Homo sapiens: one gene and its partner. The protein of the gene in region 1 interacts with the protein of each later gene in a pairwise test. Each region holds a gene or a part of one and is shown on either strand. Other genes may lie near its edges.

The links. The genes of interacting proteins can lie anywhere in the genome.
Region 2: the proteins of FLNC (region 1) and MYOT interact in binary tests that used the Homo sapiens proteins (3 or more experiments, as listed by UniProt).

The regions. Positions count from the first base shown.
Region 1 is NC_000007.14:128,847,352-128,851,103, forward strand, and holds part of FLNC (filamin-C), read left to right. Parts: intron 1-345; coding exon 346-513; intron 514-593; coding exon 594-717; intron 718-1,209; coding exon 1,210-1,366; intron 1,367-1,441; coding exon 1,442-1,631; intron 1,632-1,829; coding exon 1,830-1,853; intron 1,854-1,979; coding exon 1,980-2,227; intron 2,228-2,624; coding exon 2,625-2,723; intron 2,724-2,810; exon of another isoform or gene 2,811-3,032; coding exon 3,033-3,132; intron 3,133-3,451; coding exon 3,452-3,592; intron 3,593-3,752.
Region 2 is NC_000005.10:137,865,721-137,869,472, reverse strand, and holds the start of MYOT (myotilin), read right to left. Parts: upstream 1,614-3,752; 5' UTR 1,520-1,613; intron 1-1,519. UniProt on the Homo sapiens protein: Component of a complex of multiple actin cross-linking proteins. Involved in the control of myofibril assembly and stability at the Z lines in muscle cells.

The DNA of each region.
Region 1 (3,752 bases):
TTTTTTCCCTTATCTAATTTCCCATCTTTTTATTATTTCAGCCACAGTGTCAGAAATACATTTCATTTTTGAAAACATTTTATTTTCACATTTTATTAATTTAGGAAGGCCTTCTCTTCCAGGCCTGGGACCCACATGAGTGAGGTTTGCCCAGCCTCAGTCTGCAGTCAAGTTCATTTATTCTTGTGTGTGTTTTCTTAGCAAGTTCCTAGCCATTTTCCCATGTTGGTCTGGCTTCCCTGTGGGCATTTCAAAGGCAGGGAAGGCCTCCTCCTCCGAGGCTCCTCAGCATCAGGGGGACCCATCAGGGCTGGTGGGCAGGGTCTAATGTCCTTCTCCTCACAGGGAGCCCGTTCCGCGTGCCAGTGAAGGATGTGGTGGACCCTGGGAAGGTGAAGTGCTCAGGGCCAGGGCTGGGGGCTGGTGTCAGGGCCCGGGTTCCTCAGACCTTCACAGTGGATTGCAGTCAAGCTGGCCGGGCGCCCCTGCAGGTGGCTGTGCTGGGCCCCACAGGTATAGAATGGCCGGGGCAGGGAGGAGGGAGGTGGGGCGGGACGCCCGGAGGCTCTGCTGACCCTGTGCCCCTTGCCCAGGTGTGGCCGAGCCTGTGGAGGTGCGGGACAATGGAGATGGCACCCACACTGTCCACTACACCCCAGCCACTGACGGGCCCTACACGGTAGCCGTCAAGTATGCTGACCAGGAGGTGCCACGCAGGTGAGGACCAGCCCTGGGCTCCTGTGCTGCGGCTGAGCTCTGGGGTGCTCCTGCTGGGGTGGCACTCAGGATCACTGCTGGAGTCCCCTGGGAGAGCCTCTCCCAGCTCTCAGCCTCGTCCAGTCTCGCCACCCCATCCCGCTCTTCCCCGGGGCTCTCTGCTGTGAGGCTTTCCTGCCCCAGGAGCTTTTACGGCAAACCTAGCGCCTTAGGAAGAGTGCAGGAGGCCTGGGCCAGGGCCTCCTCCTGGACCCTCCCACAGCACCTTCCTGGGGAATGGAGACGTACCCTGGCTCTGTCGAGGGAGTCCCAGAGTGCCCCCACCCCCAGACATGGAATGTCATCGGCTTCTGGGAACTGGTCCCTCCTCCCTGCCCCACAGTCCTCCCTCCTGCCCATGTCTATGGGGAGGACTCTGGCTCAAGATGAGATCACCCCCCACCGCCCCGTCCATGCCACCCAGCCAACTGTTTATCCCTTCTGCTCCTCAAGCCCCTTCAAGATCAAGGTCCTCCCAGCTCATGATGCCAGCAAGGTGCGGGCCAGCGGCCCAGGCCTCAACGCCTCTGGCATCCCTGCCAGCCTGCCTGTGGAGTTCACCATCGACGCACGGGACGCGGGCGAGGGGTTGCTCACTGTCCAGATCTTGGTGAGTCTCTGTGCATCCCACCCCGCAGGTCATGCTCCAGGCACAGGCGGGCCTTGACCTCTGCTTCTCCCTCAGGACCCCGAGGGTAAGCCCAAGAAGGCCAACATCCGGGACAATGGGGATGGCACGTACACTGTGTCCTACCTGCCGGACATGAGTGGCCGGTACACCATCACCATCAAGTATGGCGGTGATGAGATCCCCTACTCGCCCTTCCGCATCCATGCTCTGCCCACTGGGGATGCCAGCAAGTGCCTCGTCACAGGTGGGTGCCCACCCGCTGCCCGTGCCCTGCTCACCACCCAGCCCCTCAAAGCCCCTCCAGAACCCTGGCCTGGTCCCCAGGGGTCTGCTGGTCGGAGAGCACACATGCCCTAGCCCTGGCCCCTCCCTCCCTCACCCCCGCCCAATGCCCCAGCCCACGTTGAGCACCGCCTGGCCTCACACTCTTCTCTCTTTCCAGTGTCCATTGGAGGCCATGGCCTGGGTGAGTGCCCTTTCTCTCCTCTTCTTGGTGTGGGCCAGGGTGGTTGGCGGTAGGGGGCGGGCAGCGGGAACAGAGAGGGCTGGCTCCAGCCCACCAGCTCCCTGAGCAGGATCTCCCGCATGGCAGGTGCCTGCCTGGGCCCTCGAATCCAGATTGGGCAGGAGACGGTGATCACGGTGGATGCCAAGGCAGCCGGTGAGGGGAAGGTGACATGCACGGTGTCCACGCCGGATGGGGCAGAGCTCGATGTGGATGTGGTTGAGAACCATGACGGTACCTTTGACATCTACTACACAGCGCCCGAGCCGGGCAAGTACGTCATCACCATCCGCTTCGGGGGTGAGCACATCCCCAACAGCCCCTTCCACGTGCTGGTAAGTTCTGTAGCCACAGCAAGACTAGATGGCTGGGGAGGGGGGCCTGGCCCTTTTAGCAGCAGCAGGGATCCCAGATAACTGTCCCCAAGGAATCCCACTTCTCTGAGGGCTCCTGGGGCCAGAGTGCTCCAGGATGGAGCCTTAACTTTCCCCACAGCACCCCCGAAGTGGGAGGAGAGCATGGCCCTGCCCCCTGCCCAGTGCTGTCAGCTGTCTCTGGAGGAACCCGCTGTGCTCTCCACCATCCCCAGCTCCATCTCCCCAGAGGCTGCCCTGCAGGAGGATGAACACCCAAATTATCACCCAGCATTTCAGGTTCCTGGGCCATTCTCTGAGTCAGCCCCTAGGCCTGTGAGGCTGCCACACCCTGTGCCCCCGTGCCTTGCCTCCCCAGGCGTGTGACCCCCTGCCGCACGAGGAGGAGCCCTCTGAAGTGCCACAGCTGCGCCAGCCCTACGCTCCTCCCCGGCCCGGCGCCCGCCCCACACACTGGGTACTGCGCCTCCCACCAGGCGATGTCCTCCTCCTCCTCCCCTTCCTTCATTTCTTCTCTCTACTCCTCTGCAGCCAGGGCGGGGACATGGTCTGGGGGCCTCTTGGGGAGCAGGCAAGAGTTAGGCTGGGCAGATGGAACCCCACTTGGGCACAGCACTCCTTCTCTTGCAGCTGACGCACCTCTCCTGCCACGCTGGTTTCATGATTAACTACCTTGTTCTTTCCTCACTCTCCAGCTTCAGTCATAGCATGGGTCAAACTCCTGGGCCTTCCCCAGTCACTGACTGTTCCCTCTCACCTGCTGCAGGCCACAGAGGAGCCAGTGGTGCCTGTGGAGCCAATGGAGTCCATGCTGAGGCCCTTCAACCTGGTCATCCCCTTCGCGGTGCAGAAAGGGGAGCTCACAGGTACTGCCCTGTGGCTCCCAGGCATGAGGGCTGAGGGGAGAAACCCTCTTCCAGGCCCAGTCCTGTGTCTTAATGATGAAAACAAAGGCCCAGAGAGAGGAAGTGAGCTCTACCCAGGGTCACACAGCAAGTTGGGCAGAGCCAGAACTCAGGTGCAAGCCATCTGTCCCCAGTTCAGGGCTCAGGCCACTGCCACAGGCTGTCTCTTGATGCCTGGCTTCTCGGGTGGCAGCAGAAGCACTCAGGACCAGGCCTGGGACAGCAGGGAGGTTGCAGTGGGGGAAACCAGGGTCTCCACGTAACTGTGTCTGCCCTGCAGGAGAGGTGCGGATGCCCTCGGGGAAGACGGCACGGCCCAACATCACCGACAACAAGGACGGCACCATCACGGTGAGGTATGCACCCACTGAGAAAGGCCTGCACCAGATGGGGATCAAGTATGACGGCAACCACATCCCTGGTGAGTTAGGGGCTGGGCTGGGCTGGGGCTTGGGTGAGAGGAGCAGGCCGTAGCTTCAGTCCTGCCTTCCCTCTTTCAACAAATATTTATTGAGCACCCGCTGTGTGCAGACACCAGGCGAGGCCCCAGGGAGGCTTATACCCTGGTGGGAAGCAGACCT
Region 2 (3,752 bases), on another chromosome or scaffold:
TCCTCATTTTTTCTCAGATGAAACATTTGCCATGAAAATCAACCTTGAAGGATTATATTTGTCTCTGATTTTTTTTCCATTAGTATGGTAAACCTAAGCGGGACTATATATAGACATTACACACAAAGACTAGTCCTATAAATTGTTTTCACACTAATCCTGTTTTCATTGAAAATATCAGATAAATTGATTCAAAATACATTTGCCTATTTTGTTTCATCTGGTATAAGCCAATACTGAGATAATGACAAATCAAACTTTTAACTGAAAAATTAACCAAATTGTTTGTCATCATTGAAACGAAGTCTTCTAATTATTTTAGTTACTGTCTTGGATAAAATGTTAATAAAACTTTTCCAGACCAAAGAGTTTCATCCTAAATAATAGGATACCTTCAAAAAATAGTATTTCAAAGTTGCCTATGTAGTTTAGAGTTAAATTAAAACTAGCAATTTTAGGAAAAAACAGAAATGCAACTAAACAGCCAAGAGAAAGACGCTATTGAGAAAGAATACTTAAAAAGTTAAATATTCCTTAATTTCAAGTTTATGAACACAAATACATTAAACTAGAATGCATTTTAGAAATGAACTACTTTAGGCATTTAAATTGTTGGGGAAAAACATCCTGAAGGAGGGCCTTGAGTAGATCTAAAAAAAAAGTCTATTTCAAGGCAAGTAGTTTTGTAGTTATCGGTTTATTCAGTCTGTTGCAGAATTGAATCCAGAGTTTGATTCCTAAATTTCTTTCTGGGCAGGTACATTATTGAGACTCATTTCAGATAGCAAGGAATAAACCGCTTATGAAATAGTAGATATTTTCCAGAAACAGTTCTCTTTTTTTCTTTACATATATTTTCAGAATGGCAACTGTCTTGTACATGTTGATATTGGCCTACATTGTTAATAATTAGTGATATTTTTAAAAGCCCAATTAAAAATATGTTATTTCATAAGTTTCATTTTATCCATGTGTCAAAATTTTATGCAGACATTTACGCAGGTGATCCTGTATTTTCTTTATGTTTGTAGTTACTGTTCAACAATTTAATTCTATAATAGATTCTGTTATATGACAGGGTCATTTTATTCCAAATAATGTTAAATGAATTTCAAAGATTTTTATAAATAAAGTACTATTCAGTCTCCTTTTTAAAAAATCTTAACATTTTTTTCCTGTCTCTAATATAGCATAGACTTGCACAGAAGACTGATAGAGGATATGTTGCGTTCATAAGACATCACCACAATTACATCAGATCAAGTGTCCCTTTTCAAGGAAAAATGGTGATTTAAAAATAATGACACACAGCTATCTTTCCTTCTATCATTTGTATAATGCCTTCCAGTCTCAATGAAATGAATGAGTCGCTTTCTCTTTAAATTTTTGTGTAATACCATTATAATGTTGTGGCTTTCAAACTTTTTATCTGAAAATCATCTTTGTATACACTCATCTGATTTGGACAAAAAACAAAAACAAGACCTAAAAGTGTAGTAGGAATAAAGAAGGGACTTACCCGTAGTTCCAGAGGGTGCCAGCTGGGTTTAACCCACTATTGAAGGGAAGGAAGAGGCATCTCCTTCCCTCACAGACTAATCTAGTGGCTCTGTGCTTAGTATTATAGCACCACTGACTTTTATCAGCTGCCAAACAGTGACATCTGATGTGCTTGCCTGTCCATCTACCTATGCTGGCATGTCAAAGTAAGAGTCCACAATCTAAACAATATCTCACGTGTCTTAGTGGTATTTAAGGAGTGGGATTACATGAGCTTCTTTTGCAAGCCTCTTTATTTCAGACGTGAATTTTGACTATGAACTTTAGCAAGCTCATGTGAGGGAAGGGCAGTGAATAGGGAAATGGGAAAAATAGAAAAAAAACCCTCTTATTTCTTTATTATGGTGGGGACTTTGAATTTTCCCAGTTTAAGAGAGAGGACTAAAGGGAAAATAATATTTCAAGAGTGGAGTTCTTCTATCTATTATACTAAGACTTCTCCAGGAATAAGACCAGTGATAGATGGGCTCCCAATTGATTTGTATTGCATAATTCTTCATCTGAAGTCTTTTTTCTTTTGCCTAATGAGAGTAGGATTCAATAATAGATTTGAGGTCTCTCAGTACTAGCAGTTTGTTCCGAGGTGGAGGGCAGTCTGGGCAAAGCAGGAGACCGAGGTCATAGTGACATGTCACTGGGAAGGTAGGGAGGTGGAAAAACATGATGGTGTTTCTTGAGCAAGTTTTCTGAATCTGTATGGCATATGCCCCTTTTGCCTAGTACTTTTATTCTGAAAGAGTTTTGAAACACTTAAGAAACAACCAAACAAATAAGCAATCTATATAATTAGAGCTGTCAATGCATGTTCATCTCCCTTTATTCCTAACAGTTAGTTTCCTTTCACTTTTTGTCACAGAGACCATCATGGTATTTAGATTTCCATTTTTGTGCAGGGAAGTAAATAATTGCAGAAGAATAAAATGTCGAATCAGCAAATGTGGTGAAGTAGGGTAGGTGGCATGAGGATTGGGCCAAGGGAGTAGAATTATCTCCATGGGGTGGCTTCAGTTCCCCTCCCTCATGGGTAGATACCCCAATCTTGATTGAATTAACATGTATATTAGAATCCAGCAAATAGATGTTTGAGCACATATGAGCCATATAAAATCCTTCACAGCTGGCCAAGTAGGTGTACCTTTCTTTGGTGTTCAAAGAAAGCTTGATAATTTCTGCCTGGGCGTGCAGCCCTTAGTAGAAAAAGCATGCTAGACTTGGTGAGTAGGTGGTTGCCTACAAAGTCTTATTTCAGGAGTCTCCCAAAATATTCTTCAACATCTGTTCACTGATATTTCAAATTCCAGTAATACAGACAAAACCTTTCCATCTAAATTAGAGAGACTTAAAATACAAATGCAAGTGATAGGATAAAAGTAATAATAGCCAATATATAGCATTTATTATGAGTAAGACACTCCTTCAAGCATTTTATTTTATTATTAGTTTTTTTTTAGAGACAGGGTCTTACTCTGTCACCCAGGCTGGAGTGCAGTGATATGATCAGAACTCACTGCAGCCTCAAACTCCTGGGCTCAAGAGATCCTTCCTCTGCAGACTTTCAAGTAGCTAGGGCTATAGGCATGCAGCACTATACCCAGCTAATTTTAAAATTTTTTGGACAGACAGAGTTTCGCTATGTTGCCCAAGCTGGTCTCAAACTCCTTGCCTCAAGCGATCCTCCACGTCGGCTTCTCAAAGCACTGGAATTATAGGCATAAACCACATGCCCAGCCTATCTATTCTAAGCAATTTTAAATGTGGTATATGTGACTGACATTTGGTTCTGCTGGAGAACAGGGTTTGATTAGGGCATGGAAAAGGAAATAATAGATTTGAGGTCTCTCTGCACTAAAAGTTTGAGGTATACCTCACCAGCCAAGTAGGGAAGACATCCAGGACAACCTGCTAAATTCCCAATTTTGCCTACAGCAGGTTCTAAGCATACTACACTCGAGGAAGAATTTAGTTCTGCTTACTCTTTGTCTTTCAAGCTTTGCCTCTTCTCTAGGTCTTTGTAAGATACAACCCAGGTTACCGTGTGTTACATGTGATAGCCTTCATGGTACGTCAAGGCTAAAGTTTTTGCTATAATGGGATCAAGGGATGATTTAGGAAAGGTAAGTAGGTCCTCTTTTATGATACCATTCTCAGTAGTCAGGGGCTATATTAATAATCTACTGTAAATCTGTTTGTTC